6 linked regions of the Homo sapiens genome follow. The protein of the gene in region 2 interacts with the protein of the main gene of each other region in a pairwise test. Each region holds a gene or a part of one and is shown on either strand. Other genes may lie near its edges.

Evidence for each region.
Region 1: the proteins of DCC (region 2) and TRMO interact in a two-hybrid assay, tested with the Homo sapiens proteins (one large-scale study listed by BioGRID and IntAct).
Region 3: the proteins of DCC (region 2) and MAPKAPK3 interact in a two-hybrid assay, tested with the Homo sapiens proteins (one large-scale study listed by IntAct).
Region 4: the proteins of DCC (region 2) and FBP1 interact in a two-hybrid assay, tested with the Homo sapiens proteins (one large-scale study listed by BioGRID and IntAct).
Region 5: the proteins of DCC (region 2) and TBC1D2 interact in a two-hybrid assay, tested with the Homo sapiens proteins (one large-scale study listed by BioGRID and IntAct).
Region 6: the proteins of DCC (region 2) and TDRD7 interact in a two-hybrid assay, tested with the Homo sapiens proteins (one large-scale study listed by BioGRID and IntAct).

What each region holds. Positions count from the first base shown.
Region 1 is NC_000009.12:97,907,788-97,913,008, reverse strand, and holds part of TRMO (tRNA (adenine(37)-N6)-methyltransferase), read left to right. Parts: intron 1-33; exon of another isoform or gene 34-1,991; coding exon of another isoform or gene 1,992-2,091; intron 2,092-2,392; coding exon 2,393-3,049; intron 3,050-5,221. UniProt on the Homo sapiens protein: S-adenosyl-L-methionine-dependent methyltransferase responsible for the addition of the methyl group in the formation of N6-methyl-N6-threonylcarbamoyladenosine at position 37 (m(6)t(6)A37) of the tRNA anticodon loop of tRNA(Ser)(GCU).
Region 2 is NC_000018.10:52,751,906-52,757,126, reverse strand, and holds part of DCC (netrin receptor DCC), read right to left. Parts: intron 5,074-5,221; coding exon 4,753-5,073; intron 1-4,752. UniProt on the Homo sapiens protein: Receptor for netrin required for axon guidance. Mediates axon attraction of neuronal growth cones in the developing nervous system upon ligand binding. Its association with UNC5 proteins may trigger signaling for axon repulsion.
Region 3 is NC_000003.12:50,636,845-50,642,065, forward strand, and holds part of MAPKAPK3 (MAP kinase-activated protein kinase 3), read left to right. Parts: intron 1-3,521; coding exon 3,522-3,661; intron 3,662-4,862; coding exon 4,863-4,927; intron 4,928-5,221. UniProt on the Homo sapiens protein: Stress-activated serine/threonine-protein kinase involved in cytokines production, endocytosis, cell migration, chromatin remodeling and transcriptional regulation.
Region 4 is NC_000009.12:94,628,449-94,633,669, forward strand, and holds part of FBP1 (fructose-1,6-bisphosphatase 1), read right to left. Parts: intron 1-5,221. UniProt on the Homo sapiens protein: Catalyzes the hydrolysis of fructose 1,6-bisphosphate to fructose 6-phosphate in the presence of divalent cations, acting as a rate-limiting enzyme in gluconeogenesis. Plays a role in regulating glucose sensing and insulin secretion of pancreatic beta-cells.
Region 5 is NC_000009.12:98,202,684-98,207,904, forward strand, and holds part of TBC1D2 (TBC1 domain family member 2A), read right to left. Parts: intron 745-5,221; coding exon of another isoform or gene 726-744; coding exon 605-725; intron 1-604. UniProt on the Homo sapiens protein: Acts as a GTPase-activating protein for RAB7A. Signal effector acting as a linker between RAC1 and RAB7A, leading to RAB7A inactivation and subsequent inhibition of cadherin degradation and reduced cell-cell adhesion.
Region 6 is NC_000009.12:97,493,840-97,497,825, reverse strand, and holds the end of TDRD7 (tudor domain-containing protein 7), read right to left. Parts: intron 2,164-3,986; coding exon 1,943-2,163; 3' UTR 1,701-1,942; downstream 1-1,700. UniProt on the Homo sapiens protein: Component of specific cytoplasmic RNA granules involved in post-transcriptional regulation of specific genes: probably acts by binding to specific mRNAs and regulating their translation.

The sequences.
Region 1 (5,221 bases), on a different chromosome or scaffold from region 2:
ATAGACTGGTGGTATATCATTCCTTCCTTGCAGCCTTGGGGAAATGGACAGATATCATGGCTGCAGTGCTGATGTCAACTGTGCTGTGTGGCAGGAGTCTGGGATGAATCACACTACAAGGACAAACATTGGTCAGGTTGTAGAAGTTTTAAACTAGTTTTAACTGTGTGTTCGTATATAACCTAGTTACGCATTTATGGAAAGCATTCCATTCTGACCTAACAGATGCATTTGTTATAGAGGCAGCAGATGAAATGGCAGGTAAACTAGGAGTCAAGAGACCATTCCAGGCTTCAGCCTGCTGGTTGTGAAGTGGGCAAAGGAGAAGGACCTGCTTCCTCTGTGATTCCACAGAATATTTTGAGAATCTTGTAAGAGAGAAGTTCTAAAACTACTTTTTCAGGCTATTGGACACTAAATAGATGAGAGCAGTTATTTTGCTTGTTCTTTCCCAGAACTTGAACTCTCCCACTGGATTGTACTCAACTGGGCCTTAGGTAGTTTTCTCAGAAAAATTCAGTAGCTGATCCACCTTGAATTTTATCAATTTGTAATGGCTAACAAACTTGGATAGCAAGTACTAGAAGATTTTATGATTATTCAGGGACATATTTTCTAGCACTGAATATGTGCCAGACATTGTCCTAGGTGCTAGAGCTATAGTGATAAACAAATCAGATGAAAGTAGAAATCCATGCCCTAAAGAACTTAATGTTTCAATTGGGAAGGTCAAGTCAGATAGGTTAAAAGGCAAACACAGTAGCACTGTAGACATTACTATATAAGCTTTATGGCAACTAGTGTTTGTGCAGTGCTTTACAGTTAGTAAACAGTGTTCACGTACCTTATCTCACAGTGGCTTTGTGGGTTTGACAAAGTAGCAATCCTCATCTCATAGGTGAGGAAACTAGGGCTCTTTAAGATTAGATAATCTGTCTAATAGCATCCAGCCAGGTGGTCATCTGACTCTAAATCCTTTGAAGTCTTACTTATGCTACAGTGCCTTTCTTTTTCCTACAGATATTGTTAGGCATAATTCATCATCTAGCAAGTCCAGAATCATCTTTCCAGAGTTCCAGCTCATTCATAATAACATGTTTCAGAAATCAGGGTCCTGTATTAGTTACGTTTTTCTTAAATGGAGACGGAATCAAATGTGACTGCATGTAGTTTTTCTGTTCTCATTTGGCCTATTTTCCAAGAGTAAGGTTAGTAGATGGCTATTTGTAGCAGTAACTGGACAGCATCTGTCCAGTGGGACAGCTGGAGACTTGTCTTTAGTATTTGGTAATGCTGACTTATGTGCTGCTTAATCTTTTGAGTCTTGATGGATGTATTAGATTTCTATTGTTGTGTAACAAATTACCACAGAATCATCAGTTTAAACAACACACATGTATTATGTGTTTGAAACATTATTATGTATCTGTGGGTCAGAAGGATGGGCACAGCTTAACTAGGTCATCTGCTTAGGTCTCACTAGACTGCAATTAAATTGTCAGCTGATATGAGTTCTTATCTGGAGGCTTGACCATGGAAGAATCTGCTTAAGCTCACTCAGACTGTTGGCCACATTGATTTCCTTGCCATCGTAGTAGGACTGGGGGCCCCAGATTCTTGCTGGTTGTTGGCTGGAGGCTGCCCTCAGTGTCTAAAGGCTGTTTGCAGTTCCTTGCTATGTGGGCTTCCTAGCACGCCTGCCTACTTCAGCAAGCCTTCAAGGAGAGTCTCTCGAGTGAGTCTTCCAGCCAGCAGCAGTGCTAATGAAAAGCATAGTCACTGGAGGGACATCATACCTCTTTTGCCATATTCTGTTGGTTAGAAGCCAGTCACACTCAAGGGGAAGGATTATATAAGGGCATGAACTTCAGGAGGTGCGGGTCACAGGGCCACTTTTGGATCTGTTTGCCACAGTAAGAACCTTCATTGGTCCCACAGAGATATACTGAGGACTACTATATCCCTGGAACAGAAGCACCAGTGATACAAAGATGAGTTGGTCCCAGCCTGTGTTAAGGGGCCTGCCTGCGTCTAGGGATGAAGACTCTAAGCAGGTCACTACCCTACCGTGGGGAAAGCGCTCTAGCAGAGGTTTGTGCACAGGCTTCTCTATGGGGACTGTAGGAAAGAATGCTTTTGTCTGGAGGAGCCAGAAAGGCTTTGTAAAAGGTGTGCTTTTGAGGGCCTCAAAGAGCAAGTAGGAGTTTGATAGGTAGAGAAGAGGATGGGCTACCAGGTAGCAAGAAGGGTGTGTGTTGGTACTAGGTCTGTGTGAGAGAATTATGAGTAAGTGCAGTGAGGCGTAAGCAGACAGTGTTAGAGGATTCTGGGGCGTGACTGTATTCTCCAAGTGTTTGCACTGTTCTTCATTTTTCACGTTTTTATGTCATAGGTGGAGCTATATACCTTTCTGGAATTGACATGATACATGGCACACCCGTACTAGACATCAAGCCCTACATAGCTGAGTATGACTCACCGCAAAATGTGATGGAGCCTTTAGCAGACTTTAATTTACAGAATAACCAACATACACCAAACACTGTGTCCCAGTCTGACAGCAAGACTGACAGCTGTGACCAGCGACAGCTCTCAGGGTGTGATGAGCCACAACCCCACCATAGCACTAAGAGGAAACCTAAATGTCCTGAAGACAGAACTTCAGAAGAAAACTACCTGACACACAGTGACACAGCCAGAATTCAGCAAGCATTTCCTATGCACAGGGAGATAGCAGTGGATTTTGGTTTGGAATCAAGACGTGATCAGAGTTCCAGCGTGGCAGAAGAACAAATTGGCCCATATTGCCCAGAGAAGAGCTTTTCAGAGAAAGGTACAGACAAGAAGCTAGAAAGAGTGGAAGGAGCAGCAGTCTTGCAAGGAAGCAGGGCAGAGACACAGCCCATGGCCCCTCACTGCCCTGCTGGAAGGGCTGATGGAGCTCCCCGCAGCGTGGTTCCTGCCTGGGTGACAGAGGCTCCTGTGGCCACTTTAGAAGTGCGGTTTACTCCTCATGCCGAGATGGACCTTGGGCAGCTCAGTTCACAAGGTATCTTCAGTTTCTTCATTCTGAATGAGAGATGAACTTTTACTTTGAGATTTAGCCAAGTTTGGTATTTGTGAAGGCAGGTATGTGGAGTGTTTGTCAGTATGACTGGTTTTTAGGAAACAGGTATAAAATAATATTTTTGCAGTACCATCATGTGATGACTTTTGTTGGACAACTGTGTGGTCAGCACAGTTAGTTCCAGGCTGTCAGTAAAGCATTGGCAGAGAGTGGCTGCTGCCTCACAAGGTGGCCTATGACTTACAGCCCCTTGTCTACTTGCTACAGTAGTTCTTAGAGTCTTCAAATATCATTCAGAAGCTAAATTGTGCTTGTTCTATACTTATGTACATAAAGTTTTCTTATTTGTTTTACTGTCTGACTTGAGAAATGTTGCATTGTATTCTGACTGTCAGGTAGTCGATAGCTCAGCCTCTGGCACAGAGGACTCTAGGAGCCCAGAGTCACAGGGGAAGAGTCTCTTAGCACAGAACTTGCCCCAACAAAGTCCCACTGCTAGAGGCATACACTTTGCTGCAGAAGAGAGGCCACAGGGCTCTTACATGGAGCCTGCTTACTTTAACACATGGTTCTTAACAAATGTTATCTGGTTTCCCCAGCCCACAGCAGATCCCAAGCAGTAGCCTAGGATGAAGGAAGGGGCTGTTAAGATGTGGATACAGCGATACCAGTAAGAAGTAACTAATTTCAGGCTGGGCACGGTGGCTCACTCCTGTAATCCCAGCACTTTGGGAGGCTGAGGTGGGTGGATCACTTGAGGTCCGGAGTTCAAGACCAGCCTGGCCAACATGATGAAACCCTATCTCTATTAAAAATCCAAAAAGCCAGTTTTGGTGGCAGGTGCCTGTAATTTCAGCTACTCAGGAGGCTGAGGCAGGAGAATTGCTTGAACCTAGGAGGCAGAGGTTACAGTGAGCCGAGATGTTGCCACTGTACTCCAGCCTGGGTGACAGAGTGAGACTCCATCAAAAAGAAGAAGCTGGTTGCCAAGGAGATGTCAGATTGCAAAAAGCTGTTCTTTGTGTTACAACTCAGTAAGGAGCCAGCATAACCATATAAAGAGGGAAGTTCATTTATTCATTCTACAGTTGTTTACTGAGCTTCTGCTAGGTACCAGACATTGGTCTAGGTTCTTGGAATACATCAGTGAACAAAACAGATATAAAAAACCCCTGCTGTCATGGAGCTTGCATTCTAATGGGGAGGAGAGAGACAAATTAAAAGTATAATAAGCAATCAAGTTATTAGACCAAACATATTCAACATTATATAATATTAGAAGGTGATAAGAGTTACTGAAAAATTTAAGAATACAGCAGGCTTGGAGTGTTGTTACTATTTTATTTTATTTTTGAGACAGGGTCTCACTCTGTCACCCAGACTGGAGTGCAGTGGCAAGAACATGGCTTACTGCAGCCTCAGCCTTCCGGGCTCAAGCAGTCCTCCCACCTCAGCCTTCTGTGTAGCTGGGACTACAGGTGTGCACCACAACACCTGGCTAATATTTTGATTTTTTTTTTTTTTTTTTTTGAGACGGAGTCTCGCTCTGTCGCCCAGGCTGGAGTGCAATGGCTCGATCTCGGCTCACTGCAAGCTCCGCCTCCCGGGTTCACACCATTCACCTGCCTCCGCCTCCCGAGTAGCTGGGACTACAGGCGCCCGCCACCACACCCAGCTAATTTTTTGTATTTTTAGTAGAGACTGAGTTTCACCGTGTTAGGCAGGATGGTCTCGATCTCCTGACCTTGTGATTCCCCCGCCTTGGCCTCCCAAAGTGTCCAGATTACAGGTGTGAGCCACCGTGCCCAACCTATTTTGAATTTTTAAAGAGACGGGGTCTCATTTTGTTGCCCAGACTTGTCTTGAACTCTTGGGGGTCAGGGGATCCTCTGTCTCAGCCTCCCAAAGTGCAGGGATTACAGGTGTGAGCCACTGCACCTAGCCTGTTGCAATTTTAAATAGGTGGCCCCAGTGGGCCTCACTGAGAAAGACACATATGAGCAAAGGTCAAAGAGGTGAAGACATGAGCCAGCCTGTCCAGAGAAAGGACATGCTGGCCTGAGGGACAGCCAGTGCACAGCCGCAAAGTGGAGGGTGCATGGCACGTTTGAGGTCATGTGGTCAGAGTGGACTGAGGAGGGCTGAGCGGAAGGA
Region 2 (5,221 bases):
CAAGGGATTTGGGCACTGCTTGCCAAAAAATCTCCCATAGATTTAACTTTTTGAAAACTTAATTCAGGCTTGCCAGTTTGTGTTCACAGATTGCAAAGGCAGATATCTGATCCAAGATTACAATATGTATGTCTCAGGATTTGTTGCCTATTTTTCATTGCCCTGAAAAAAAATATTTTGCATCATCACATGGGAATATTGAAAGTTGTTCATTCCTAATAATTATTAAAATAACACAATAATAATAATTGTTAGTTCTATTTATACTATGGCTGTCATTGAATAAGAATCTACTCTGCACTAGAGCTTTACATCCTAGATGTTGTTTGAAAATTACCACAGCCTTGGGAGGTAGGTTATTATTATGTCTGCTGAACAGAAAATACTCCAGAGGCTCAGATAGCTGGCAACGTTTAGAGTAGGGAAGATGTGCTTGGCCAGATGCAAGTTCATTTTCACGGTAAGGGTTAGGGAAGGAATGAAGAAATGCTCATGCTTTTTCCTTTTTAAGTGGCACTTGAATATTCCCAAACAGTCAATTTTCTAATCACAAAGTTTTCAATAGTTAATTAATTTGTAGGCTATTGAGATATAAAGCAAATTATTCCAACTCAGTTTGTTAAGAGTATGTTTATGTATGCACATATATGGGTGAGTTTGATCTGCTGAAATCCAGTGAAGAAGGAGGAGGAGTAGAAGGGAGACAAAGAAGGAGAGGTAGAGAGGAGGATGGCAACAGCGGAAAGCTCTCTTTATATGGCATAAAGCCCCAGGTCTTCATTGGTAAGGCAAATGTCTACTATTAACATGACATACTTTGCTAGATACACAGTAGAGGGGATGGTAGGAAAGCTTCATAGATAAGTTCAGCGCTGCTTCCCTTCTTCAGCTGTTCTCAATCTAGAGGACTAAATAGAAGTATACATGGCACAGAAACACTGCAGCATTTTAGATTAGAGCTAATTGGATAAAAATAAAATTCCCAAATTTCAGCCAGTATGATGAAGTTGCTTTCAAATGGAGGCTTAATAGCCCAGGTATTCTTTACTGATAGAACTCAAAATGACTAGAAATACTGAGAGTCAGTAGCCTGTTACTTTGCAACTTTTAAGAAAATGTTGGATGGAATGATAGTTCTTCGTTTATCTTTCCTACTTTCCTTCCCTCTCCAGCCAAGTGTGCACTCAAGCCTTTAAGAGCACTTGAGAAGCTCCTAGAAAATAGGATGAATGGTGCATGGCAAGATCATTGTGTAAAATGTGCTGACTGATTAAAGACAGATTTCATTTGCTACACTTCTTTTTATCAAAAGACACTTTGAGAAAGCAAAAATGGAAGAGGGACATTATTTAATATGGGCTCTATACAGCACCTGAGAGTACAAAACATTTTTTTGTTGTTGTTGTTTTACCCAAGCAAAGCCTACTGTTACCATTTAGTGGTGACTGGTTTATTGAGTGCTAATGCTTTAAAACTGAGATTAAATCAGGTCCATGGTCTTTATTACTGGGAAGATATATGCCCCTTGTGAATTCTAGTGGTTTGGCAATCTTAACCTCAGCAGACATAACATTGATGTATTCTGTGTTGCCAAACAGCATGGTAAGTGTTTAAAATGCTGTGAACAGCCTTATTGCCTTGAAATGATACAATCTAATATGAGATTTTAACTCAGTGACTGAATCCGTGTGCCTATCCTTGTACAGAATACTAAAGTCCAAGCCACTGTATTTTAATATCTCACAGCGAAGGAACTCTTCTTCATTTCACTACTGAAAGACAGCACATGTAAATGTGAATGTAGATTGCATGAAGACTGAAACTGCAATGTAACAGGCCATTTTCATTAACAGTGCATAGGCAGCTGCCTTTCATAATAAGGCATCAAAATATCAGCCTGCTTCATTCAAATCAGCAGACCTCCTCTGGCCTTGTGGACAACTGATGGGTGGGATCTATGAGGCCAGAAATTCTCTAGTGACTGAAAGTCAAATTGTCCCCTTTCCACTTCATTTGGAGCATTCTGAGAAAGCTGCTTTTACCAAATCTGAAGGATTTATTCCACTTGTTTCTCCTAATCAATCATAATTAACATTAACATTCAGTTCTCTCTACACTTTATACTCATCAATCAAATTTCAGACACTCATCACTCCAAGGTTCCAGTTACTTTATAGCCTTGATTTTCACCATCAGGATGTCACCTGGCCTGTCTCCTGAGTAGAGGGGGTTTTCTGCATCTGCACCTCAGTCTGTCATTGCTAAAGCAGACCAGGGACACTTTGAGGTAGAGTGACCCACTGTCCTGGTTTTACCTGGCACTGAGGTGGCTTCCCAGGATATGGGACTTTCAAGTGCAAAAGCCAAGTCAGTCCAAAGAAAAGCAGAATGGCTAGCCAGTCTACCTCTAGGTAAAATCTGGCTTAACTGACTATGGAAAACTCTGCCTTCATCAGTTTGGGTGGCTATCACAAAGTATCTGGACTGGGTAGGCTGTAAACAACAGACATTGATTTCTCAAAGTTCTGGAGGCTGGAAATCTGAGATCAGGGTGCCAGCATGATTGGTTTCTGATGAGGGTCCTCTTCTGGGTTGCAGATTACAGACGTCTCATTGTATCCTCACATGGTGAAAGGAGCAGGGGTGTTCTGTGGTTACTTTTATAACGGCACTAATCACATTCATGAGGGCTCCACCCCATGATCTAATTATCTCTCAAAGGCTCCACCTCCCAGTGCTATCACATTGGGGGTTAGAATTTCAATATACACATTTTAGGGAGAAAAAACATTCAGTCTACAGAGTTCTTAGTGGAGAAAAGCTACAGAAGAGTGGTTTGAAGCTACATATGGGAATTAACCACATATCTATGAGATGTAATTCTTTATAGCACCACCTGACAAAATCACATCTTTCAGATTTCAACTTTCTCAGACCCTCACTAGGAGAGTGCATGAAGGAGTGGTGATTCTGCCCAATTGTCCTGTTATTGATGAAAATGAGTTATTCTGATCAGTCTTCCAAGATGAGACTAGACTAAGTAGGACCTGGGAAAGAAAACCCATAACAAATGACTAAACAGCCTATGATTCAATATTGTTTTTATTGAGAACTAAAGATTACGTTGAAAGCAGCCCTTCAAATCTGCTTACCCATTCATAACTTAAATTTATTTCAAGTTCAATCTGCTTGCCTTGCTTTATGGTCAATATAAAAGTTAAAAAAAAAGACAGGTTTTGGTCAAATCTTTATAGAAACAAGTAAAAAAACTGATTCTTCACTTTGCAGGTCTAACATTTCAGGGGCCAACAGAAATAATTATGAGCTGCCTTCTAACCAGAAGAGTGGGGCAGAAATAGCAATATCATGGGTTCCAGAATGGTCAGTACCATTTTTTCAGAGTCTACATGACTTCAGTGTATCCAGGTGAAAACAAAAACTGTTCATCTTATTACTCAGCTGTTGAGCCAACATGTTACCAAGCGTTAAGAAATTTGGAAGCACTAGAAGGAATTTTTATTTCTTACTTGACATGTATATGTTGTAGGCCATGCCACTATAATTAAAATAAAATTTACTCTTCTTAAGGCCCCACAACAAAAAAATGGACTCTGCAAAAGTTTAGCATTTAATGAAGCTGTAAAGTAAAATTAGCAAATTATATTTTCTAATATTTTTCTGTTAATGAGAAGTCCTCCCTTAGATATAAGTAGTAAGTCAACTTGAAACAGTTTTGTTTAAAAAAATAATCTCATAACTTTACGCAGCCAGTTGAGGTCCTATGACTGTTTTCTAAGATAATTTAAGGAGAAAGGTCAGTCAAATCCATGACAGAATAAACATGAATCTTTTTACATCTTTCCTTTTTCTTAAAAATGTGCGTTGTTGGTGAAAATGTAAATTAGATAGCCATTATGAAAAATGGTTATGTAGCTTTCTCAAAAAACTAAAATTAGAATTACCATATGATACAACAATCCTACTTATGGGTATATATCCAAAGGAATTGAAATGAGGGTATATAAGAGATATCTATACTCCATGTTAATTGCAGCATTATTCACAACAGCCAAGATGTGGAATCAATCACGAATGGGTAAAGAAAATATGAGATATATATATATATGTGTGTGTGTGTATATATGATATACATACACACACACAATGGAATACTATTCAGCCTTTAAAAAGAGTAAATCCTGTTATTTGTGATAACATAGATGAACCTACAGGATATTATGCTAAGGGAAACATGCCAGGCACTGAAAGAAAAATACTGCATGATCTCACTTACAGGTAGAATCTATTATAAAAAAGTCAGACTCATAGAACTAGAGAGCAGAATGGTTACCAGAGGCTTGGGAAGATGGGGCGTGGTAAGGAATGGAAAGATGTTTGTCAAAGGGCACAAGGTTTCAGTGAGAGAGAAGAAATAAGCTTTTAATATCTATTGCACAGCAACGTATATATCAAAATTGCTAAAAGAGTAGATTTTAAATGTTCTCACCACAGAAAAGAGAGAAGTATGTGGTGACAGATATGTTAATTAGCTTGATATAATCACTCCACGATGTATACATACATCAAAACATGACATTGTACTTCATAAAAATATATAATTACTTGTCAACTTAAAATTTAAAAGATTTTTAAAATGTACATTATTTCTACAAAAATTATTTTCTCATCCCCAAAAATGAATAAGAAGAAGAGAGGAAGGAGGAGGAGGAAGAGAAGGAAGAATCCACCTACCTGCTACTGCAACTTTTGCTGTCCGACTAATAATTGAGCCAGAATCTCCTAAAGATGCCTCACATTGGTAAAGTCCCTCATCTGGCTTGTGGTGTCTGGAATGAAGTATGTTTTGTATCAGCAGAGACCCATTTGAAAGTTGCTGCTTCCTTTCATCCATTCCCAAGGCCAGATGAATGCCATCTTTCTTCCACTTGATCACTGGAACTCCTCGGTCGGACTCCGCGGAGCAGTCGAGGAGGACATTTCCTCCCCGCATTGTGACGGCATCAGAAGGTTCTGAGAGGAAGCGCAGTGCTGTGAAAGCTTTAATTTGAAAACCTGGAACAAGAGAGCACAGGGAAATATGTTCATGTATTCAAATAAATCTCAGGCTTAGATTCCCTGTCTTTTCTTTACAAAGCTTTTCACAAAAGCTGAGGGCTTTGAACAATGTCCAAGAATAAATAAAAACTAAAATCAAGGATAT
Region 3 (5,221 bases), on a different chromosome or scaffold from region 2:
TTGGCAGCTGGACCTGGGCCCAGGCTGAGGGCTCTGGCTCCTGTGATGTACTCTGCAGAGAGGCCAGTGGGGCGTTTATTATATTTTCCGGGGACGGCCCTCTCCCCTGTCCCTATGCCTATTTTCAGGGCTTTGGCGTTTGTAGAGGGACTATTTTAATCCATGTGGGAAATGGGTTCCTAAATATGGACTCAGTGGGGCAGAAGCCTTGAGAGGCTCCAGCTCAGGGCAGCTCCACCTGCTCCTCTACCTCAGCAAAGCACAGGATGCAGGCCCAGGCTGGAAGGCTCTCCAGCCCCTCCTTGGCCATCTACCGCCCTCCTTCTTTCCCTCTGGCTCCTCCTATCTCCCTCCAGTCCTGGGCCCATCCTCCCATCCTTTGTTTGCTCGGAAGCCCAGTGTTTCCTGCCAGGCCCCAGCCAGGGACCCCCAAGTGAACTTGACCTGCCTCTGCCCTCAAGCTGCTCCCAGGGTGGTAGGAGGAACAGAAGCAAAACCAGTAAGAAAGGTGCTGGGAGGGGCCGGGCGTGGTGGCTCACACCTGTAATCCCAGCACTTTGGGTGGGTGGATCACGAGGTCAGGAGATCGAGACCATCTTGGCTAACACGGTGAAACCCCATCTCCACTAAAAATGCAAAAAATAGCTGGGCGTGGTGGCGGGCACCTGTAGTCCCAGCTACTCGGGAGGCTGAGGCAGAATGACGTGAACCCGGGAGGCGGAGCTTGCAGTGAGCCGAGATCGTGCCACTGCACTCCAGCCTGGGTGACAGAGCAAGACTCTGTCTCAAAAAAAAAAAAAAGAAAAGAAAAAGAAAAAAAGGTGCTGGGAGGACTTTCCAGAGAGAGAAAGAGAGAGAGAGAGAGAGAGAGAGAGAGAGATGGAGACAGAGAGAGAGAGAGATTGATCGATCTGAATTGAGCCCTGAAGTTTCCCCAAAAAGAGGGAGTTGACCCAACAGAGAGGATGAGGCAAGAATGCACATGACAGGGACCAGCACAGACCTAGACACAGAGGCCTGGGGGAGTAAGGCCTGTTTGGGAACAACATATATATTTTTCTGGCCAGAACAAAGTGGTTTTGGCCCAGAGGTGGCAGGAAGTGAGGTGGGAAAGGAAGGCAAGCCCTGCGTGCTGGGGGAGGACATTTATCTGGAAGATGTGAGGAAGTGTCTGTGGCCACAGGTGGATTAGAGTCATAAGGGGAGAGGCAGGGCTGAGGACCCTAATGAAAGCATTCCAGCTGTGAGCTTGGACTTTTAAGAGAGAAGAGGAGGACTCTGATGTGGGAGTGAGATGCCACAAGGCAGGCAGTGAGGAGGGAGTGTGGGAGCCAGCCTGGGAGGCCTGACAGGAGATGGTCAGGTCAGACTGGGGAGGAGAGAACCAGGCAGGGGGAGGGGGAGGAGGCAAAGAAGGAACCCGGTGCAGGGAGGGAGGATGGTACCTCTTGGCTCCTGTGGCTGAGGATTGGGGTACCCCTAGCTAGGGCCGCCACAGGACATGGTGGAGGCAAGTGGGGGGCACTGAGCTTTCTGGTCCCAGTGCTGAGAAAGAAGCTGGTGATTGGGAATTGTGCGGGCACTAACCTGAGGGGTGTTCTGGAAGGCAAGGGCAGCATGAGCAAGGATCCATGGTGTCCAGGCAGGAGTGTCTGCCCACAGCAGCCTTGACGCACACCCCCAGCCTGCTCTGGGTAATGGAGCAGGGGCACAGAGCTGCTAGAGGGCTTGTCCAGCCCCTGGCTCTCTGTATTCCTTGCACTGCCTGTATTCCCAGGCTAGGGTTGAGGGGAGCAGCTCCAGAAAAGGAGGGACAGCCAAGGGGCAGCAGGCTCGAGAAACCACTGCCTGCCTCTCCCCTCTCTGGGACACTGCCCTGACCCAGTTTGTCTTTACCTAGAGAGCGTGCATGGTCACAGAGCCTGCCCCTAACAGTGCCCTGTGTAAAGTGGCCTGGCTCTCCCCATCCTGCAGAGGAGGAAATTAAGGCTGGGGCAGCCCAGGGTCCTATGGCTGCTGAGCAGTGCTGATCCGAGCCCCGGTCTTGAGCATCAGCCCTGGTCCCCAGCCCTCCTCCATTAGGAAACACAGTGTCACAGATGGTCCTTGAGTGAGCAACCCTTTTTGGGGGTGGCTTGTCCCTGCTGTCCCCATTCTGGGCCATCTCCTCATGCATGCTGACTTCTTCTTCTCCCCCTACAGCAGGGCCACTGTGAGGCCTTGTTCATTTCTGGTGCTGGTTGGCAGCCACAGTCCAGGGCTGAGTTAACCCGAGCAAGGATCCTGATGCCCGCCCACTGGATGCTTGCCTTGGCTGGGATGCACCCTGTGGGGATGACTCTGCTATTATACCATTTTACAGAGTTGTGGGCTGCAGCTTGGAGCTGTGAATGTATGCCTGAGGTCACACCGAGTCATTGGAGGAATTCAATCCCAAACCCACATCTCACTCCACTCAGCTGTCATCTCCCTCAACTAGGGTCCTCCCTTCCCCCAGTCTCTACCTCTGGGTCCTTACCGGTGATCTGTAAGCATGGAATGAGGGTGGAGGCTGGGCAGCTAGGTCACCTTGAGATGGCCCCACCTCTCTCACAGTGCGATGACATTGTCGCCCTGGTACTGCATAGCAGCTCCCAGGAAGGCTATAAAGTTACCTTGGGAGCTGGGTACTGACTGGGTGGTCATGACCAAGCAACTCATTTTAGAAGCACTTTTCTTGGTAGTGAGAGTTTTGTTCTCATGCCCACTCCTGGAGAATCTGAAGTCTTAATTACTTTTACCCCTACAGGAGTGTGGCCTTGTCTCCCTCCACTCTGGGCCAGTTTCTTTGTGGGAGATAGATTGACAGACACAGGCCTCAACCTCTCCTGCAGGAAGTCTTCCTTCTCACTCCAGCACTCTCCTGATCATGCTGAGTCCTGTAGGGCAGATTTGCGTGTTAGTGCACCCTCTCCCCTCCCCAGCCTTTCCCCAGCACCTTCTGCTTCTACACTTACATTTCTCATAGATGCCCAGGGTGAGAATCACAAGGGAGGCACCAAGGGCCTACTATGTACCAGGTGCTATCCTGTACAATTTACATGTACAATTTCCAACCCTAGCCTAGGAAATGGAACAGCTGTGTCATCCTTATGGTAAAAATGAGGCTCAAGGGATGTGTGGCCCCTGGCTTGGGGTCCCATGGCTGCTGTGTGATTAGAGTGGGGTTATAAAACCCACTCAATTTCCATCTGAGAAGGGAAGCAAGGGCTTCTTTGGCCTCTGAGCCCCTCGAAGCAGTCAGCCACCTCCTACGGACTCCTTGAACTACCTGCCAAGCTGCTTGAGCCCAGGACTGACCCTCAAGTCCAGAGGCTCACTGGACCACAAGTCAGAGAAACCTAGATTCAAATTCTCATTCTGCTCCTTATAAGCTGTGTGACCTGGGGCAGGTCACAGGCCTCAGAGCTTATATGTTTTTGTCTGCAAAATGATGGTAGAGGGCTCTGAGCCTGACACTTTCTATGTGCACCCACCTACAGCTCCTGTATGACAGCCCCAAGGCCCGGCAGGAGGTAGACCATCACTGGCAGGCTTCTGGCGGCCCCCATATTGTCTGCATCCTGGATGTGTATGAGAACATGCACCATGGCAAGCGCTGTCTCCTCATCATCATGGAATGGTATGCTGGCCTGCCCTGTCTCCACACCCCCTCGGCATCCCTGTGGCCCTCAGGCTCCCTGCCACGCTTCTAGGGGCTTTCTTTGTTTTTCAGGTAGCAGATCTGGGTGCCACTGTAGCCCCTGAGGGGCAATGGAGCAGGCAGCCGCAGGCCCTGCCTGTGGATCTATGGAGTTGGCCATAAGGACATTCCCTCAAGGGTGGGCAAGAAACCACAGGGGTTAATATGGCCTCCCTGAGTGTGATTTCTACTCTGTGAGGAGGACTGGAAGAGCTGTCAGAGAAGGCTCCCAATCCCTGAATATGGATGGATGGGGGATTTGGGGAAGAACAGGACCCACGCAGTTCCCTCAGCTTTCTCTCCTTTTGACCTGGGTATGTGCTCCCATGGTCCCACCAGGAACTGGGTGCTTGGGGCCTAGAACCAGGAGCCAGTGGCCTTTTCCACCCTGGGCTTCTTCCTGTAACACCATGGCTCAGCACCAGCCATCCTTGGACCGGTTAGCCAGTTCTTCAGATTTGGGGTTCAGATCCTGCCTCTGCTACCCACTAGCTATGTGACCGTGGGCAGCTCTTAACCTCTCTGAATCTCTGTAACTCAGATGTAAGATGTGGGAAAGATCTTAATGTAGCATTTACCCTGTGCTTGACTCCATTCTAAGTGGCCCATGTGTATTGCATATTCAATCTGCATGACTATGGGGTTGGTGCTGTCATCCCTATTATACAAAAGAGATAGCTGAGGCACAGAGAGGTGAAAGAACCAGCCCAGGATCACACAACAGCGCTCATGAAACGTGGATCCCAGGGCATGGCACACAGTAGGTGCCCAGAGAACAGTGGTCATATGATGATAATTAACATCTCATCCCACATTTGGGGAAACAGAGACTTGAATGGGGTTGGGAGTACCCAAGCCCTCACAGTCAGGTAGGGGCCGTGCCACTGGGAACACACAGGCTTCTTGGCAGGGATCAGAGCCCACCACCCTCTTCTAGTTCCAAGAGTTCAGTTCAACCCACCTAAGCTGACAACCCACCATGCACCAGGTTCTACAAGGGACAGGGAGGCTGACAGTGGCTGTTCAGTAGGGGAGGAGCGGAGCAGCAGGGTCTGAAGCCTGGGCCTATGATTTGGGGCAGGGGCAAGGGTAGGATGATGTGCAGTTTCCCCCTCTCTGCTTATAGTCACCTCTTTTACAGCATGGAAGGTGGTGAGTTGTTCAGCAGGATTCAGGAGCGTGGCGACCAGGCTTTCACTGAGAGAGGTATGTGCATGTAGCTGGACCAGCAGGAGGATTCAGGGTGAGAGGTATGGACCAGAGCGTTGTGTGTGATGCTAGGCAAGACCCTGTTCCTCTCAGTCTTCCCATCTGAATAAGAAAGGGTGAGACTCAGTGTCCATCCCCACAAGGGACTCTCTGAGTCTGAGACACTTTGTCGAACTTGGACTCTCTATGGCTTTGGGATGGAGGCCTCAAAGCCTCTTGATGCTGTCTCGCAGTTGAGCTGGGGAGAGGTAGCTCAGGACTGAGGAAAGAAGTTTAGATGGGTTGGGGGTA
Region 4 (5,221 bases), on a different chromosome or scaffold from region 2:
TATTGGGCCTAAGAGGAGAAATGTCAGAGCATAAGGAGCAAAGTGGCTTGAGGCCTTCCTTGAGAAGTAGCAGGCAGCAAACAAGAGAACAGGGCACCTGCTGAGGCCAGAGCACCACTGGCCGCTACTGTTGGCAACAGAATTTAAATGCCCCGCACCTCACAGCAAGGAGGCCAAACGGGCTGCATAGAACCCCAGAGCCCCAGCCGAATCAGGGCACAGTGTTGCACAAATGTCAGCTACTTCCAGGCATGTGTGAATCAATAGGTGGCTTTCAAACCACGGCTGAAAATTCTAGGACATGCTTTTAAATTGCACTGTTCCAGAGACCCGGATATTTGGTTTCCATATATCCAAGTTGAAGCTGAGATTTTCTTGAGAATAGCAAAGAGAACAATGATGAGGAAACACTAATCATGATTCACACTATATTTAAATACTTTAAAATCTCGTTCTATGTTGTATCAAGTTTATAAAACAAGTATATATTACATGCAATCTATTGGGTAATTTCAATTAAAGGCTTTTTGTTGTTGTTTTTTGTTTGTTTTGAGACAGAGTCTCGCTCCGTCACCCAGGCTGGAGTGCAATGGCGAGATCTTGGCTTACTGCAACCTCCCCCTCCCGGGTTCAAGCGATTCTCCTGTCTCAGCCTCCCGAGTAGCTGGGATTACAGGCACCTGCCACCACACCTGGCTAATTTTTGTATTTTTAGTAGAGACAGGGTCTCACCATGTTGACCAGGCTGGTGTCGAACTCCTGACCCCACGATCCGCCCATCTTGGCCTCCCAAAGTGCTGGGATTACAGGCGTGAGCCACCACACCTGGCCAAAGGTTTTTTTTAATATAGAAAAAGCAGAGCTGATTAGCATGAGTCCTGCTCGTGCCCTTCACAGATCCATGGCCATTGAATAGGCACAGCTGTTGATATGGGGGCGCTTCTGGAAATAAAACCACAGCTGCTTGGAAGAACTAATTCACCTCTCAAGCCTTGGCCTAGAAAATGGAAGCCTGTTAACTAGGAAGCCTGTTAATTGATTTGGGTGGTAAGACGGATAATTAAAGCAACAAGGAAGGATCAGAGCCTGAAGCTGAAGGCACCAGCCTCCAGGAGATCTTCCATGGTGCCAGGAGCCTGGAAAATGTGTGCAAGAGTGAGACACCAGCATTGGTGACATCACATAACCCCCACTCCTGGGGAGGTAGGGGGGAGGGTCTAGTCTCTCAACCCCCACCAAGAGAGGACCGGGAGAGCCCTCAGGCATGGAAGCATGACCTTTATGGGGCATTGTCTTCATGGCCTTAGGAATGGCCCACTCTCTTCTAAGAGCCACTGGGAGGGAGGGCACAGACAGGGCTGCCACCCCTGGAAATGCTACCTAAAACCTCGATCTTAAGAGGCCTGGGCCCAACCTGCTTTGTACAAGAATGCCAAGAGTGGAGGGCCTCTGAGCTCACCTCACCTGTTGGGCCATCCTGAGGATGGCACAGCCCTCTACCTGGGACATTCGAAATTAGAACCTTACAGGCAGCCAGAGGTTTTTCTAGTGAGGTCTGAAGCAAAAGTACAGGGCACCAGGTAAATGCCGAGTGTATACTCCAAGGGGACCGAAACTCTTACATAAACATGGCACATCTGAATGTGCCTCTGGAGGAAGAAAGACCTATCAGTCTTGATCCTGGAAAAAAGAATATTTTGTTCACCATGTATCCTTAGCACCTAGAACAATGCCTGCACATAGTAAGTTCTCAATGTAAATGGATGAATAAATTTAGAGAGTAATAAAAGGATCCAAGAATTCCTAAGATCATAAACTCCATTAGACCCAGTGGTATTGGTAATGCCTGCCTGCATAACCTCTACCATCCAACACTCCCAACTCCTGAAAAAAACCCTCCAGATTAGCATAGCTTCTTGGTAAAAGTGTGTTTGCTGTGCAAACTTAGCGTTAGACAAATGCAATGGCCTTTCACCCGGTTCCTCAGGAAACTAGAGTGTAATGGTCAAGGCCCCAGGCTGGCACTCTACACCACCAGGGTTCCAATCCCAGCTCTGCTCCATGCTCAGCAGCCGGGGAAAGTCACTTAGCATCTGTGACCTCTGGTTCATCTGCAATATGGGAATGTAGTGTGTCTGCTTCATAGTCTACAGAGAGGGGGCATAACTGAGTTGATACAGGTAAAGTGGTCAGAAAAGTGCCTGGTGCATAGGCAAGTGTGCAAGAAATATTACCGTTTCCACCTCTAGCTCCCTTGGCATAACACAACCATGCGGAGAAGCAAGAACTCAGCACCAGAAAGACCTCAGTTCAAATTCTGCCTTTGCTTCTTACTGATGATGTGACATCAAGTTGTGCAAAGCCCCTGAGTGGCTGTTTCTGGCCATGTTTGTGGGGATCATGGATAATGCGCGCGGTGCACCTGGTTCATAGTACTCCCCACCAAGGCAGCCACATGACAATAGAGCCCCGCAGGCATCCACTAAGTAAGTGTGGGTTGATCTGGGGATTGGGGGAAGGGGAGGTATCTCTAAACCAGTTTTGCAGGCAACTTCTTGGAGGACAGCCAATAAGGAACTGGCAAAAGAAGAAAAAAGTGCTCCAAGTTTACATTTGATAAAATCTCACTGGGAATATTATTTATTTGAGATGTTCTTGACATTTCACTTCAATTTTATTCAAATTAGTTGGCCCTGCAGCCCAAGTAAAGTGGAAAAGCACCAGGCAGGGTTGAAGTCTCTGTGTCCTTTCCCTTTCCAGCCCCAGAGATACGAAGGAGCTCTTCCTGGAGTTTGGGGAGCAGAACTCAACTGGAGAAACTGCCTATAATATCTCTTCTTTACTTTTACTGTAAATCCCACTGAAAAATTTAAAGAGCTCTAAGTCATTTTAATTCATATGATGGAGAACACCTTAGAAGCATAGATTAATGTGGCCAGTATTTTGAAATCCTTGGATATTTTAATTAAATTTTAGCATTGTTTTCCAAGTTTACAAATGGTTTCTAAAACAGAATGAACCATTTCACAGCCATGGACTTTGTGACACTGAACATGCAGATTTGTGATGATTGGGGGAGGCTGCCTTCCACAGCATCTCTAAAACACTGAAGGACACAAGGATTGGAGCCAGGGGCTGACAGAACTAGAGCCCTCCAGGGCTGCCTGGATCTGCTGACTTAGGACCATCTCCTCCCGAAGTCACTGTGACTGAGTAACACGATTGCAGCAGCAACACTTCACACAGCACACAGAAGAACCAGACTCGGGCTCGGAACACGCAGCTCAACCAAAAGGGAGGGAGATTATTACTTAATCCTTATCACTAAAGTCAAAGGTAAGACTGGCTTGTTACTGCTTGATTCCATGGTAATCAACCATTTGCCCAGCCAGGAACATCCAAAGGTTCAGAAATACATTGAAGAGGTGCTAGTGAGAGCTGCTTTCAAAGGTCACAAATACCTGCCTCTGCTTGCATTCACCGGGGCCTAAACTGGTAAACAGGATGGAACGTGGCTGTCTGCGCTTCTTTTATGCAAACAAACTTGCAATTTCACTCCTTGGTCATGTGGAGAAGAGAATTCAAGAAACATAAAATAAATCTGGTAAAGTTTCTAAAAGCTTAATGCCAAAAACTGCAAATTGGAAGATAAGCCTAAACGTGTATTAGCTGACGTGTCATTCTAAAACGAAATCTGAAGCTCTTTATTATTTCTTCTGTCAAACAGCTGAGAGGACCCCATATATAAAAGTAACTCTTCTGGACATAATATGAGTCTGATGGGAGGACATTTCCTGCAGCCACTCTTGGGTGCAACATTGTTCTAATATGTAACATGCTAGCCTGGACTCTCTCCCTGCTGATAGCATACAGGCTACTGCTAAGAAATGAAGAACAAAACATGCAAATAAAAGTTTACAAAAAAATGAAAATAAAATAGACCAGGCACGGTGGCTCACACTTGTAAGCCCAGCACTTTGGGAGGCTGAGGCGGGTGGATGACGAAGTGAGGAGTTCAAGACCAGACTGGCCAACATAGTGAAACCCCGTCTCTACTAAAAATACAAAAATTAGTTGAGTGTGGTGGCAGGAACCTATAATCCCAGCTACCTGGAAGGCTGAGGCAGGAAAATCACCTGAACCTTGGAGGTGGAGGTTGCAGTGAACCGAGATCACACCACACCACAGCCCTCCAGCCTGGGTGACAGAGCTAGACTCTGTCTGAAAAATAAAGAAATATAGCCTTCAGGAAAACAATGATATTAATAACATTGGTACCCAATTAGTAAACTTAATTGATCCTCCTACGAGTCTCTGAGGCTGTCTCCATCTTAACAATTGGAGAAACAGGTTCAGTGATGTCACATCAACAGCCCAATCCTCACAGACGTTGAATGGCAGGGCCAGGAATCTAAGCTTGGCTCCATCTCTCTCCAAAACGTGCTCTGAATCCCTGCACATTCCTGTCTGCTAAACTGGTCCAGATCTCCTCCTCTTTTCTCTGCCTCAGGGCAAGCGTGCCAAAACAGACAGGCAAAACAGCCTGCAGCTGGACAGCATCTCCCAACAGATCACCCTCTAACATCTCAAGTTCAGCGTTTCCAAAATGTTGGGATCATCTTCCCTCCTTCCCCAGACTAAAAACCAGCTCCTCCTTGTTTTTGTTTTTGTGTTGTTTTGTTTTGTGGTGGCATGGGCTCTGCATTCAATTGCTAGGACCAGCGATTTCAGAAACTCCCTCACAGCCCTTCTCATCTAATCCATGCTCAGACTTCTTCCAAATCCTTCCTCTCCCCTCCAAGGCTGCAGCTCTGCTGGCTACTCAACTGACGGCTCCCCCTTGCCACTGGTTTTCCCATATCCTATCTTTCGCTCTTCCGATATACTTCCAGCCACACCTTCTCCAGATTTGTCTCCAGTCACGCAACTGCCCCACTCAAAAAACTTTCAAAATCCTTGATCTCTCCTTTTCTATACCCCCAAAAGTGTAAAGTGTTCACCCTTGCCATTTGATGCTTCCCCAATGTACCCACAATTTCACATCCACGAACGCCCTACCATGAGTACTCCATGCTTTGGTCAAATTGAGTGGGCAACTTTTCCAGAAACACTTTCCCACCTCAGGACTCCTCCCCCTGTGACCTCCAGCCTGAACTGCGGTCCAGCCGCCGGGCCTTTTGCTTCCCCTGCACGTGCCCATTCTTGGCGCTCCACAGTCCTT
Region 5 (5,221 bases), on a different chromosome or scaffold from region 2:
AGGTAATGGACACATGGAGGTTCATTATACTATTCCCTCTATCGTTTTGAATGTGGGAAATTTTCCATAATAAAATATGGAAAAAAGGGTCATATAACACACATCAATTTCAGAGATGTTAAGATGTAAAAATTAAATATGTACATTTCCTAACTTGCCTTGCAACTAGGGCAGCCATGAAATAGTTCTGACCAGTAAACTGCAAGTAGAAATTGCTGGGTCAGGGAGCCAGCTCCTGGTGTTCACCTTCTGCTTCTCCTGGCCTAGGCCATGCCCACAGTGCTGGAGGCGATGCAGCCATTTTGTGACCAGGAGGTGATGGGTGTGAGGATGAAGGCCACCTGCCAGAGATGGCAGAGCAGGGAGCTAGGAGCCTGAACCCTGCGGTACTGCCTTGTCATTCACTATCTGAGAATAATAATCCCCGATTGAAGCTGTTGTTAGGTTGGGCTTCTCTTCCATGCAGCCAAATGCACTCCCACAGTGCAGAGGGAGAAATGGAAGCCCGAGAGATTCCCAACTTTCCTGAGAGTCACAGGCTTCTAGGAACAGCTCTGGGGCACTGCCCTACATGGCTGCAAAGTCCCCTCCTGGCCCCACTTACCTGGGATGCCGTCAGCGTGTTGCAGTAGTAATCAGCGGGCATGATGGTCTCCACAATGGCCACCAGGCACCAGAAGGCGCTCTCCTCCTCCTCTAGGACCAGCAGGGCAATGGCCGCCAGCCTGGAGTAGTAGGGAAGGCCTGGAGTGATTACAGAAGCCGTGGCCCTGCCAGGCAGCACATGGCAGAGGTGGCTTCCTGGGTTCCAGGGGGAAAGTCCTTCCATGTGAGCATCAGTGCAATCCCACTCCCTAACCAGATTTGTGCTCCTGGCACCTGGGGTGAGATAAACGCTCTTTTGGGGAGGATGACCGGCGATTTCCAGAGCAATGGGGGTCACTTCAGAGCAGGGGCTCTGAAATCAGGCTGCTTGGGTAAATCCTGATCTTGTGGCTTCCTGGGTGACCTTGGGCAAGTTACTGAACCCCTGTAAGCCTCAGTCTCATAATAATCACAGGACTATTTTGAGGATGAACAGAGCTCATTCAGTGCCCCACACAGTGCCTGCCACACAGTGAGCTCTTTATAAATGTTAGCTATCCTCACCTTAGTATTCACAGGCTTTGAGACCTTGGCAAGTACACTAACCTCTCTGGGCCTTGGTTTCATGATCTGTAAAGTGAGATTAACAATATCTATCCCCCCGGGGCCAAGAGGCATCTTGAGACAGACCTACCTTGCCTCGCTCACTGCCTGGCATTTAGGAGGTGCTCAATGCACATAGCTTTTTTTCTCCTTTACTTCCCCTCCCCGCCAAGTTAGCATAAGGCTCTAATGAAATCATGGGTAAGAAACAAACAAAAACCCACAGGGCTGAGCAGGGAAGTCTTCCTGGGATAAGTACTGTTTTCTCTACTTCTCCCATCTTCCCTGGCAGCTCTCATCCCGGGCCAATCCAAGAAGTCATTTTCCAAAAATGTCTTCCAGGGACTACTGGTCTCCCAAGATGCTAGGTGAACACAAGGTTCTATATTCAAAGATATCTGGGGAATGCTGCCCATTCTAGCCCCTGAGAGGCTTATGACACACACTGTCTTAGTAAAGCCTCTGAGAAGTCCTGTGGTGACAAAACGCTGTGTGGCTGACTCTAACCCAGGGTCGCCCAGGGGGTCCACAGAGCCCCTGTTGTCCATTGCACCCATGGGGGCCTAGTAGAATGAATGTTCCTCAGAGGACCCTGGAGAGATGTCGCTTTAGAAAGCCTCTGACTCTCTGGTCATAACGAGCATTTAAGGAACACATTCCCTCATCCAGATATTTATGCTTCTTTGGGTTCTCTCTAGATTGGATTCATGACCTCCACCTTCTTTTGAGGCTCACAACTCTTAGAAACATGGTTGAATCTCAAAAGAAAAAAGAAATATCCCTTCTCTTTCCCCAGTAGATTGGGAAGGAATTTCTCCCAAATTTGGTTCAGATATTTGTACAAAACCTTCCTAAGTCGAAGCTGAGTGGATGAAGAGAACAGTCACAGGTCTCCTGGGAAATAGGAAGCTCCGTTCTCTCAGAGCTGGTGGGGAGGGACCTCCATAGGTCACTGAGTTCAAGGATAGCAAACGTGAGATACACTGGCCTCTATCCTTTTCGTCTGTGCCCAGGGCAGACATAACTAACTGATCATGGCAGCATTCCCTTTGTCTAAGCCCATGGTAGACATAAGTAATTGATCACAGTACTCTTTCCCACTGAGTCTGAAGGCTGCCTCAGAAACTCTCTCAGGACAGGGCTCCAGGTAGCTGCTTCCTACTGGTCATCTCTGGTCTAAACAAACTCCTTATTGCAGTGGTGGAAAAACCAAGGCTTAGAAAGCAGAAGTTACCTGCTCAACATTACATAGTCAGTTGGTGGCAGAGTGGAAACAGAACCCAGGGCTCCCAAAGTCTAGCCCAGTGCTCTCTCCACTCTATCCCACCCTGTTCCCCCTGAGCCTCAGAATGGCCTCAGTCTAGGGAGTTAGCTGCCAGCATTGGTTTAGACTTCAGCACATGTTAAAAACTCAGTTATCTGAGGCTGGTTGCTAGGGCTTACTAACTGCTCAGGTGTATGGCTGAATTCGAACCTAAGGCATTTAGGGCCCAGGTAGGCTTGCAAAGAAAGGAGTGTGTTGATGGGGGAAAAACAAACCACTTTTAGAGCACTGTACTTATTTTCATAGGTTTAAAACATTTGCTCTAAATTAGCATTAGACCATCACTAAACAAGCTGGATTTGTTGCCTTAGAGGCAGGGTCTGTCATCTTGAGACATCAAACATGCAGTTCCTTTTCTTTTCTTTTTTTGAGACAGAGACTCACTCTGTTGCCCAGGCTAGAGTGCAGTGGCATGATCATGGCTCACTGCAACCTCTGCCTCCTTATCACCTCAGCCTCCCGAGTAGCTAGAACTACAGGCATGTGCCACCACACTTGGCTAGGTTGTTAGGTTGTTTCTTGTTTTTCGTTTTTTTAATTTTTTGTATTTTTTGACAGGGCTTTGCCATGTTGTCCAGGCTGTCTCAAACTCCTGGGCTCAAGGGATCCACCCACCTCGGCCCCTCAAAATGCGGGAATTACAGGCGTGAGCCACGGCGCCGGGCCCACACATGCAGTTCTAATGGCTACCACTAGATGGCAAAGAAGACGTATCAGGGACCTGCAGGCTTGGGTTTAGAGCCTCCAAAAGAATACGTTGCACTTGCCACATTTGAACAGGCTTTCTATTATAAGTAACTTTCTCTTTTTTCGAGATGGAGTCTTGCTCTGTCACCAGGCTGGAGTGCAGTGGTGCGATCTCGGCTCACTGCAACCTCTGCCTCCCTGGTTCAAGTGATTCTCCTGCCTCAGCCTCCTGAGGCAGCTAATTGTTGTATTTTTAGTAGAGACAAGGTTTCACCATGTTGGCCAGGATGGTCTCGATCTTTTGACCTCGTGATCTGCCTGCCTCAGCCTCCCAAAGTGCTGGGATTACAGGCGTGAGCCACTGTGCCTGGCCTATTACAAGTAACTTTCTGTTTTAAGCAGTAAATATTTACATGAATACCAATTATCTGCATTTGCATATCAAATTTAAGTAAAAATGCTATTCAGAGAAAGATATTTTAGAAAACCCGTCTGGGGACCTTCCGCCTCTCTTGGCCTCAGTTGTCCCTTCTGCGCCTCTCTGTGGCCTGTGTGCTGCCTCCTTCCACACAGGGAGAAGCTTCTCTCCTCCTATGAGGCTTATCTCAAGTGCCCCTCCTGCCATAGGATTTTTCTCTGCCCCTTCAGCACAGGTTGAACTCCAAAAGCAGGTCTCGAGAAGGTTACATCCACATAGGGGAAAGGTTTCTGGGAGGCCTCAGCACAGCCTCTGACTACTGCTATTTGGAGAGAGAGCAGGTTGTAGAAAGGACTGGGTTTGGGGGCTGGGGGCGGGGGGCCAGGGTGAGCAGTTGGCTGGGTCAGCATTTGTGGTGAGACAACGGGCAGGTTCCTCAGCCTCTCAGACCCTCTCATGTCTCATCTGGGCATGGTGGCACCAGTGAAGGTTTTTGTGAGGATTAGATGCCATCAGGTGTTAAACACCTGGCATCCAAGAGGCCCCCATTATGCTTTACTTCCTACCTGGCTTTTGTGTGAAATGCAAAAATTATTATTCATTCTGATCTCATAGCTTCCAGCTCCCTTCACAGCTATTCTTAGAAGAGGCTTTGCAGGTTTTGTTTCTTCTGGATTTTAACATGTTCAAACAAATGAGAAGTACAGGGGCTTTTGTCAGACTGTTGAATGAATGAAATTTCTACAGACCTGACCTGTGGCAGACGTTTAGTGTGGCATGAAATCTGAACATATTTTCCAAGGAGGCTTCGACTGAGAGGCATTACTGTTGGAGTTTAACTCTTAATTCCCAGGAATTGTACATACACATGCTCAATTTCACCCAATTTTAGGCTGGAAATAGAGTATGAAAAATATCTACCTTTGGGAACCACTCAAATTTGAGTAAGGACACTGAATGTTGATTCTGTGTTAAATAAATGTCACACACCACCTATTCTAAAAAAAAGCAGCATGGCTTATGTAAATTTTGCTTAGGTATATGTGTGTTTAAATTAAATCGAGTGAAAACTTGCTTTGGGAAAATATTTGCAACTATGCAGCTTCTACTGAAATAGCTGGGGCTGGAGCGGGGGGATGACAGTCCCTCACAGTCTTGGAGGGGAGATAGCCCTGTGAACCAGGTGACCTCATCCCCTAACCCCAGTCCCTCCCTGCGTCCCCTACCAATTGGACCAGAAGTGGAAATTATTCCTGGCTGGGCCAATCAGATTTTTTCTTTGGGGAATTTAGAACTGGAACATGAGGGGTGGGGTGGGAAGACTCACTGAAAGGCTCAAGACTCAGGGGCTGAGGTCTCCATTCTAACAGCTTCGATGGTCCCTAAATGTCCAATGAATGAATGGACAGAGGCTGGTCTGCTGAGAGAGAAGGAAGCAGACACGCAGAATGAAGAGAGGCCAGAGGCCATGCAGCTGCAGAGGGCAGCAGAGCAGTACCTTGGTGCTATACGAGCTCAGGTCATGGCATCCCAGGACTGTGGCATGAAGGCTGCCCCCTGGGGTTGTGCAGGGGTGCAGCCCTGCTGCAGACAGCAGCTGCCTT
Region 6 (3,986 bases), on a different chromosome or scaffold from region 2:
CTCCATTTTGTTCTGTACTAAGAAAAATTCTTCTGCCTTGCAAAAAATAAATAAATAAATAAATAAATAAATAAATAAATAAAAGTAATGGAAACATTTCTAAAGTCAGTGAAATAGAAACCTTTTCCTAACCTGTAGACAATTTGAGGATTTTTCCATTTTTTTATTAGAGAATGAAACAATTATTAAAAACATACCAGTTTATTTCACTTAAACATTTCTGTGTTGGGATATTTTTATTTCATCATAAGTGATAAATCACTGGCATTCAGCACTCCTGAATTTTGAATCACTTGTTGTAAATACTGAGTTTTAAAAAGCTAGAGATAATTTTGACATGTTTAAAATGAAAAACTTCAAATATTTGGTCTCTACCTTCCTCTTTCTGTTCTCATTTGTTTCTGGATTTTTCTCAAATAAAAACAAACAAATGACATTGAGAATTTTTATTTCCAGCCTGGTTTTTGCCCCTGAAGTTTATTCCACATTTCCAAGATTCTGCATATCTTCACATGGAAGTCTATTAGCTCAAATTCAGTGTGTTCAAAATCAAATTTTTAAGCTTCCCACTCCCCCACTCCATCTGAGTAAGGTCCTAGGCTCTCATACCTTAAGACTTGGCTTCACTCTTCCCAATCTGTATCTAAGCTGTCTAATAATTGTAATTAAAAACTTTACAAGGTCATCAACACTTTTTCTTCAACACCATTGCTCCACTCTTAGTCCAGGGCCTCCCCACCTCATCTTTGGACCACTGCTAAAGCCTATAACCTGTCTGCCAATCTATCTGCCCATCAATTAGCAAGCACAAAAGGAGTGCCTGATGTGTGTAAGATGCCATTCTGACGGCTGTGGATGCTCAGACGGTGGTGTGCTGGAGAGCCTGTCATATGCGGTCTCAAGAGCTGCTTAGGTGAGTCTCTTCCCAACTCCACATTCAGTCTTGTCATATTATTAGCTGAAAATCAACAATGGTGGGACCATTTACAATATGAGAATTTTCAGACACTACAAATCAAGGCTCAGCTCCCCACTCAACAGAACCAGTTGTCAAACATTTACTGGTATATCACCGGAGATGACTAAGACCCGTCCCTCTTTCAGGGAGACCATGATCTAGCTGGGGTAATCGGTGCACAGACTAGTCATATACTATAAAACACAGTGACATATGGGCACCAAGAGAGGCATGATCAAAGTACGATGGAGTAGAAAGGGGTACCAGAGAAAGCTTCATGGTTGGCCCAGGAGGTCAGGCAGGACACTGACAAGCAAAAATGATGGGAGGAGAATGAGATGCAGGTTGACAGAATGGAATAAGCAGGGGTTCAGTGACCAAATAAAGGTACAGTGTGGCAGGGAGTGGTAGATAAGGAGGTTGGGTAGGAGGATTGTAGAAAGCCTGGGTCCTAGCTGGACTCTGTGGGCAATGAGAAGAGAAGCCACTCAAGATTTGGGTTGAGGGTCACGTTGGTTTGCCTGGGCTGCTCCTCTAGAAATGCTGATGTGTTAAGACTCAGGATAAGTCCTCACATGCTTTGGTGATCACTTGCTTTGAGATACACTACTACATCAGGGTAGAGTTAAGTCATAATAGTCTCAGCTTCACTGGAGAAGAACCCAGCTCTGCAAGGAAGACAACATGAAACGGAAGCTTTCATCTTAAGATCATGAAGCCTAGAAATTAAAAGGTAGTCAGCTTTTATATTGATAAACATTTTTATTCTAATATTATAGTAATAATTCAAGTACAATTTTCTTTGAAAAGTCAACTCTGTTAAAACAAAACTTGTTAAATATCTTTCATCAAACATAAGCATATTCTTTTCAATCCCCCACAGCAGTCAGAGCCATGTAGCAGAGTTAAGATTTTTTTTAAGCCTACTACATTTTGTTATTGCTAAAAAATCTGAATTAGTTGTCAAGGTTTCAGAGGCAGTCATTAATTAACTTTTGAAAGCTCTATCAGATACTCTGACATAAAATCATGAATCCAGGTATCGGTGTCTGGCAACGATGTGTCCACTAAGTAGACCACTACTTTCCGGTCCCAAGGGTTAGCATTTTCAATGACTGTCTGCACCAGTGCCACCAGAGGTTTCTTCTCCACATGATTTCGAAACACCATAGAAGCCTCCTCAGACCACTGGTTGCACTTCACTCCTAGGAGGAAGAGAGGAAGAAGAGGGAGCAGTGAGGAGTCAAAGGAGCTTTTCTTTGATCCATTATGATGGAAAATTATTTAGTCAATTCCAAAGTAACTTAAGCATCCCAGGTTAGACTTGCCTGAACTGAAAAACGGTTACTGAACAATCTTAAAACACTCCAGCTTATAGTTTTTCTACTCTGAATGGAGTCACTCTGGAAATCTTTAACTAAAAAACAAGTTTCATTTGAGACTTAACATTGTATTATAAAATGAGGTAATAATGACTACTGTACAACCCCCATAAAGTATATGCATATTTAAACTAATAACAGAATAAAATATCAATATCATATTAAATGACATTTCTTTCATTAAAAATTTTTTTTCTGATGGACCAAATATCATAAAAAAAAAGAATTATTGTATGATTCATTTACAGTATAGTTATTTAAAATTATACACAGCATCGTGGGAAAAGCACTGAATTGAAAGTCAACAGACTCAGTTACTATTCCCAGCTTTTCCTCTATCGGGTGGTGTGGTCTTAGGCAAATCAGCTGATCTCACCTATGATAAAAGAACCTGATTGGATCAGATCATGAGAAATCAAGTTAGAGAATTCTAAATTCGATTTTAAAACAAAACTGGGACAAGAAAGTACACATTGGCCGGGCACAGTGGCTCACACCTGTAATCCCAGCACTTTGGGAGGCCAAGGCGGGCAGGTATCTTGAGCTCAGGAGTTCGAGACCAGCCTGGGCAACATAGCCCAGCCCTGTCTCTACAAAAAATACAAAAATTAGCCGGGTGTAATGGCCTGTGCCTATAGTCCCAGCTACTCAGGAGGCTAAGGGAGGAGGATCGCTTGAGCCTGGGAGGTCAGGGCTGCAGTGAGCCGTGACTGCATCACTGTACTCCATCCAGCCTGGGTGACAAAGTGAGACCCTCTCGAAAAAAAAAAAAATATATATATATATATATACATATATATATACATATTTCAAGAAATACAATTAAGTCCACATATACTGGATTACATAAACTGTAAATTATGCCCCAAAGTAATTAAGATATGGAAATTTCAGACATAATTTTGGAAGACTTGCTATCTATATAGCAAATGGGCTAAATTCTTTGATTATTTATTTCCCACAAGAGAAGCCTAGAAATTTCATTTTATCTGCAGCAGCCCTGACAATCTTTGAGCCATGTTATTTAAGAAGAAAAAAGGTAACCCATTGGTAAGGTAAAAGATGATTCCACAGTATGGCTCCCTTTCTTCTAGGATTCAGAAAATTTTGTGCATGGCCATGGTGCACTGATGCAAAGAATGCCCAGGTCAAGGCCAGATGTAATGAAGCAACAACTCACTGGTGTTGTGGGAAGTCAGGAACCCCAAATGGAGGGACCGGCTGAAGCCATGGCAGAAGAACATAAATTGTGAAAATTTCATGGACATTTATTAGTTCCCCAAATTAATACTTTTATAATTTCTTACTCCTGTCTTTACTGCAATCTCTGAACATAAATTGTGAAGATTTCATGGACACTTATCACTTCCCCAATCAATACCCTTGTGATTTCCTATGCCTGTCTTTACTTTAATCTCTTAATCCCATCATCTTTGTAAGATGAGGAGGATGTATGTCACCTCAGGGACCCTGTGATGATTGCGTTAACTGCACAAATTGTTTGTAGAGCATGTGTGTTTGAACAATATGAAATCTGGGCACCTTGAAAAAAGAACAGGATAACAGCAATGTTCAGGGAACAAGAGAGATAACCTTAAACTCTGACTGCCAGTAAGCCGGGCGGAACAGAGCCATATTTCTCTTCT